Linked DNA regions of Homo sapiens: region 2 is linked to region 1. A link means that fine-mapping ties the variant in region 1 to the expression of a gene that starts in the linked region. Tissue or cell type: whole blood. Region 1 holds a variant in brackets; the other region holds the start of a gene. All regions are shown on one strand. Distances are between the middles of the regions.

Region 1 (2,916 bases):
ATCTCCAATATGTCTTAAATTGTAGCCTGAAGTAGGTACCCATAAAAAGGAACTGATCTCACAGAAGTCACCTCTACCATCTGGGGGTTGGCCAACCCATAGAGGAATTCTCCCTTATTGCATCTATACTTTCTCTTTTCTGGACTATTAAAAAGTCAAGAAATACTTCCCCCTAGGAGGTAGGCTGGGTGTGAAAGGGAGTGAAACCCATTTGCCTCTTTTGAGGTGCTGTTGGTCCTAACAGAGGTTTGGAGACTATACAAATACCTAAGATGAATGGGAATAATTTATAATTTTCAGTTACTCATTCTCTCAGAAGTAACAACAAACACATTAACTCAGTTGTCAGCATTCTCCCAGGGAATCAGAAAAAGAAAGGAAGCACCAAGTAGATCAGCCTGATCTTGGTACCGGTGATGCTGGGGGGTTGGAGGGTGGAGGTGGGTCTAGAACTCCAAATGGTTTTGGGGAATTGAGAAAAGCTCAACTGTTTTTTATGTCTGATTAGAAGTAATCAGACATAAAATTGCCCATTCTGAGCAAAAGGCCATTTTACTAAATAAATTTGGGAAATCTTCTGAAATAAGTTTTAAAATGCTGCAGGCTAGTCCAACACTACTCTTAGAACGTTCTCTCTTGGAAGGGAGTTCACAACCATATACCCTTGAGGCTTTTGAAAACACATAGCATATTTTAGAATGTCCCCACAGATGGTCAGGAGTTCTGCAGTGTGTTCTGGGAGTACCTGAGGGCCCAGTGGTGGTCTTTAAGTGAGTGGCAGCTGAGCTGAGATATATAGCTTGTGCCCAGAGAGTAGCACATGTGTTAGCTCCAGAGTAGCTCTAACCATTACCAGCCCTGTACAAACAGGGCTGTCTCAGGTCACCACCCTTTCTTTTTGGTTAGTACCAGAAGCTGCTAAACACCCTGATTCCCCAGAAGGTGTACACAGAGACCCTCCCTACCCAGACCAGAACTGAAAACACCAAGATTTTAAAAAATGAGCTGAGTGTGATACATGCCACCCCTCCTCTGTTTCAGTGTTTTACAAATGTTGGCTTATGAGCTCAGGTAGCCCAGGGACATGCACATCAGTCAGTCCGCCCCTACGTATGCTCCACTCTGCTTCCTGCACAGCGAGCAGAGAGAATTTCTAAAGATGGTGAGAGGCCCCCTGGGTCTCAGTGAGTTTCCCACACACCCTCTCTCTGGGGGCTCAAATGCTCAGAATTCTTAGATTACTAAAGGGATTGGGGTTGAAGGAGGGGAAGGACAAAAGGGCCTAAGCCCATTCCCAAACAGAAACAACTACATACCGTTTTGGTCTTCGGCACCACTGACTGAAAAGGAAAGAGAAGGATGTCTGAATAGGTAAGGCATGATGGTACAAA[T/C]ACAGTCTCTTACTGCCCTGACATCATTTCTGAACTCTTACCACTCCCTGCTGGGAACCAGGCTTGCCAAGAGCCTAGATGGACATCTGCCCTCTACTCGCTCTACATGCTCAGAACTCACACAAAGCTCCTACTCGTGCATCTGGTCTACTTTTATTTTTTATTTTTTTGAGATGGAGCCTCACTCTCTTGCCCAGGCTGGAGTGCAGTGGCATGATCTTGGCTCACTGCAACCTCTTTCTCATGGGTTCAAGCGATTCTCCTGCCTCGGCCTCCTGAGTACCTGGGGACTACAGGCACATGCCACCACTCCCGGCTAATTTTTTGTTTTTGGTGGAGATGGTGTTTCACCATGTTGCCTATGCTGGTCTTGAACTCCTGATCTCAAGTGATCCACCTGCCTCAGCCTCCCAGAGTGCTGGGATTACAGGCATAAGCCAACACACCCAGCCTGGTCTACTCTTAGGAAAAGGTATTCCACCAGTTTGCACAAACTGCCAAGTAGAAGGATACTGTATATGTGCAATATCCTTTTCTATTTTGAAGTCAGCATTAAAGTCAAGAAAGAATGAACTATCTAGCTGTTTCAGTCAGTCAGAGAATCTGGATAAAGTTCCCACGTGGAGTCATCTGTTCTGTTCCCCAGGTCCTGACGACTGGAGAGAAGACTCTTGAAACAATCCCAAAGGGAAAACAGACTCCATGTCAGTAGGCCTCAGTCTGTAATCGGGTGAAGAGTCAGTCAGATGACCCCTAACACTGATGAATTTGAGCTACTGGTAGAAGAGAGCCTGAAACCTGACTTCAACCACTCTTACCAAGCAAGGAATCAGTATGTTGCTCTGTAGGAACCAAATCAACTGGGGATGGGAGGAAAGGAGAAGATTCTGTGGTGAAATAATTTCAGGAAATGCTAAGTTCAAAACAGCCAAAACACATTTCTCTTCTGCAGGACTTCTCTGCCTTTAATATAAAAATCTACCATAAATCAGTAATGAAGATATGAGGTATTTTTCCCTAAACTCATTTAACCACAGACCCAGATATTTTCCTGGGCATCTCCTGAATGATACAGTGTAAAATGCTCTGGGAAATGAACAAAAGGAAGAGCCCAAGTGCAGATGGAACAGCTATCTTCTCCTGCCATGTATGTAGATTCACTTTCTACCTCCCAAATCTTCAGAACAAGCATTCTTATTCTAAGGTAAGAAAACTTACAAGGTGGTGGTGAGTAGGGAGGGGATAGCATATGGTGAGAAAGGCTATGGACTTAGACCATAAAATTTTCAGTTAAATTTTACCTTTCAGATAAAGGGGTGATGCTAATAATGTCTATTTCATAGGTTGCTCTAAGGAATAAATACATACATGCAATGCCTAATCTAGTTTTGACACTCAACCACAAATGACAGCTATTATTAGACGGTGCAAATATGTAAGGTGTCTCCTTCCATGGCTTAAGTGTGGAAATTGAGTCAGGTCAATACCATCATGCTTTGGAGTGACAGCAAACACTCCTGAGCTC
Region 2 (2,916 bases), 49 kb after region 1:
GAATGAAGAAAAGCCACACATCAAACAGTACTCCAACAAAATCAACAGGGTTTAGCACATTTAAAGATGTGAGCATAAAAAGAATGAACAAGGCCGGGCGCGGTGGCTCACACCTGTAAACCCAGCACTTTGGGAGGCCAAGGCAGGTGGACCATGAGGTCAAGAGATCGAGACCATCCTCGCCAACATGGTGAAACACTGTCTCTACTAAAAATACAAAAATTAGCTGGGCGTGGTGGCACGTACCTGTAGTCCCAGCAACTCAGGAGGCTAAGGCAGGAGAATCGCTTGAACCAGGAAGGCAGAGGTTGCAGTGAGCTAAGATCACACCACTGCACTGCAGCCTGGGTGACAGAGCAAGATTCCTCTCAGAAGAAAAAAAAAAGAGTTGATGAGAGGATCAGAGTTGAGAAAGTACAGTACAGGCTCTTGCTCATTCTACCCTTACTGAGAACCTACTATGTGCAACGTACCATGGATACAATTCTAGCAAAGCAGACCCTGATTCTCAATACATACTATGATTGGAGTAAATACCAGGTTCTCCTGAGTACTCAACCCTGGTAAGTAAGAAGAGGCTTCATGGAAGAGGTGACTTCTAGGCTGAAACCAGTTGGCCAGATTAAGCTTGGGGAAGGTGTGTAAAAGAACGCTTACATATGCTAAGGTCTGAGGTGAAAGAGAACGTGGGCAATTTGTTGGAATTATAAGGAGCAGAAACGTAATTTGGAGGGTGACGACTACCTAGAGATATCATAGTCTGATTAGGTGAAGGACTCAAAAGTTTGGCGATGAAAAGCAGGAGGGAGATAGAGTAGTAGCCTAGTAGAATTAGAGATGAGGGAGGTTCTTCCTATTAATTCAGAAAGGAATATGGGAACAAACTCACTGATAAGACAGTGTTCTCCACAACTCAATATTTAGTTATTAGGAAGGCAACCAAATGCCTTCACTTCTTTTCCTTTAACAATGGCTTAGTTTGACTAAAGTGTTTCTCACAAGATACACACAAAAAAACAAAATACAAGAGCAAATGACGGATAAAGCTGTAAACCTAACGTTTTACTTTTCTAAGATTTATATAATCAGTGATTTAATTGGACCTAACTCCACATCCAGAACTCAAATGAAAGAAAACTTCTGGCCGGGGGCCGTGGCTCATGCCTATAATTCCAGCACTTTGGGAGGCTGAGGAGGGTGGATCACCTGAGCTTGGGAGTTCGAAACCAGACTGACCAACACAGCAAAACCCTGTCTCTACTAAAAATACAAAATTAGCCGGGCATGGTGGCGCACATCTATAATCCCAGCTACTTGGGAGGCTGAGGCAGGAGAATCACTTGAACCCGGGAGGTGAAGGTTGCAGTGAGCCGAGATCACACCATTGCACTCCAGCTTGGGCAACAAGAGTGAAACTCCGTCTCAAAAAAAAAAAAAAAAAAAAAAAAAAAAAAAACCTGACTCACTTCTGAAGACAGGATTTTCCCAGTTTCTAATGCAGCTTCATCTAGCTAATGAAACTTAAGAAAACAGTTTGAGGTTACCTGATTTTGCCAGTTTCAAAACATTGCCACGACAGAAAGCAAGCTGTCTCTAGTTCCTGTGGCTGAGGTCGCTGGAGCCATGTTCAGATGAGATCATCTCAGGAACCAAGAGCAGCGGCTTTCATGTGAAGTGAATGGTGCCGCCTGGGGATGTATCTTTGGTAAGCAAGATTGCAACACAGCAGGGAGTTTACCCAGGGCAGTGCTGACTCACGCTGGGCAAAATTTGTACTTCCCAAACAACTCAGCCTGAACCAACCGCAGTCAACTGCAACCTAGGAAAGAAGAGGCAGCTCACTGATTGTTTTAAATCAAGTGCTGATTACTGGGGGCAGGTAAACCTCATTCCCCCACTACTGGTAACTTGGCCACCTCCAGAGCCCTTACCCAAAAAGTTCCAGTGGCCAGTTTCTAAAATTTCATCTGAGAACAGGCTGGGGCTGGGGCCAGCAAGATTACTGAACATAGCAGGTTCACAGCTCTGAAGATTTCCCCAGGAGGCTGATAAATAAGTCACTTTGCATTTACAAATTAGAACATCTGGGTCAGTGGACTCAGGGAACTTGCCCAGTCATCATTAGCCAGTCAAATCATTAGGGTGAATTTTTGTCAGTTCTAACCAGGCTCATTGTTCTTTTTTCCCACTAGGCCTCCTCTGACCTCTCTATTTCTTCAGACAACTCAAGTTCTCTCATTAAGATAGATGCACTGGAATTTTTTTTTTTTAATCAGCTGCCACATTCTCTATGCTAAAGCCAAATCATTTACCATCACACCTACTGGATGCATAGGGAATACAGAAGACTATGAAAATCACCTTAACACTTGCTCTGAAAAGAGACATCCCTAAATTTATGTCAATTCTCATTTATTAGCCTGCTTATTTAAAAAATCAATCTAGAATGACTGGCTCATCAACAGCTATTAATTACTGAATTTGCCCTGACAGGCTAGAATTGACATTGGTGTTATACAAAAAAAAAAAAAAAAGATCAAGTCCTTGCTTTTTGTGTGCTTTAATTTGACAAGAGAGAAACTAAAGTTCCTATTAGATCCTTCTGTTTCCTGCTTAAAATGTATGACAGTTCCCCAAGGCCATCAGCTATTTCTTAGCAGGGCATTTGAGGCCTCTGCACCCAGCTTCGTTCATCCTTTAAGGTAGGTCTCACATGGCATGAACTCTGGATGTAGCTGCCAACTCAGCTTGTCATTCAATAATGTTAGGTTAATTAAAATGTACGTGCAGACAGAATTTGAGTTTAAAAACTATACTACTTAATTTTCTATTCAAGGGGCTAGTTTTAAAAAGTTATTTATCCAACTCACTTAATTCTCCTTAATTACATTATTCCAGTAGGATAGCCACGCTGAG

What was found.
Region 2: it holds the start of RFFL, and the variant in region 1 is fine-mapped to the expression of RFFL in whole blood (INTERVAL, PIP above 0.99).

Annotation. Positions count from the first base shown.
Region 1 is chr17:35,013,424-35,016,339 of GRCh38, forward strand. It overlaps RFFL (ring finger and FYVE like domain containing E3 ubiquitin protein ligase), which reads right to left. Exons shown (of 7, transcript NM_001017368.2): 6 at 1,317-1,340. The region is part of intron 6 of RAD51L3-RFFL (RAD51L3-RFFL readthrough); the gene reads right to left. Among named protein-coding and RNA genes, the nearest start is that of LIG3, 34 kb to the left of the region's middle. The variant T/C (reference allele first, on the strand shown) is at 1,392.
Region 2 is chr17:35,062,032-35,064,947 of GRCh38, forward strand. It overlaps RFFL (ring finger and FYVE like domain containing E3 ubiquitin protein ligase), which reads right to left and starts at 1,676. Exons shown (of 7, transcript NM_001017368.2): 1 at 1,545-1,676. All of the region lies in intron 5 of RAD51L3-RFFL (RAD51L3-RFFL readthrough), which reads right to left. RefSeq lists enhancers at 1,227-2,426, 1,513-2,308, 1,758-1,857 and a silencer at 1,448-1,517.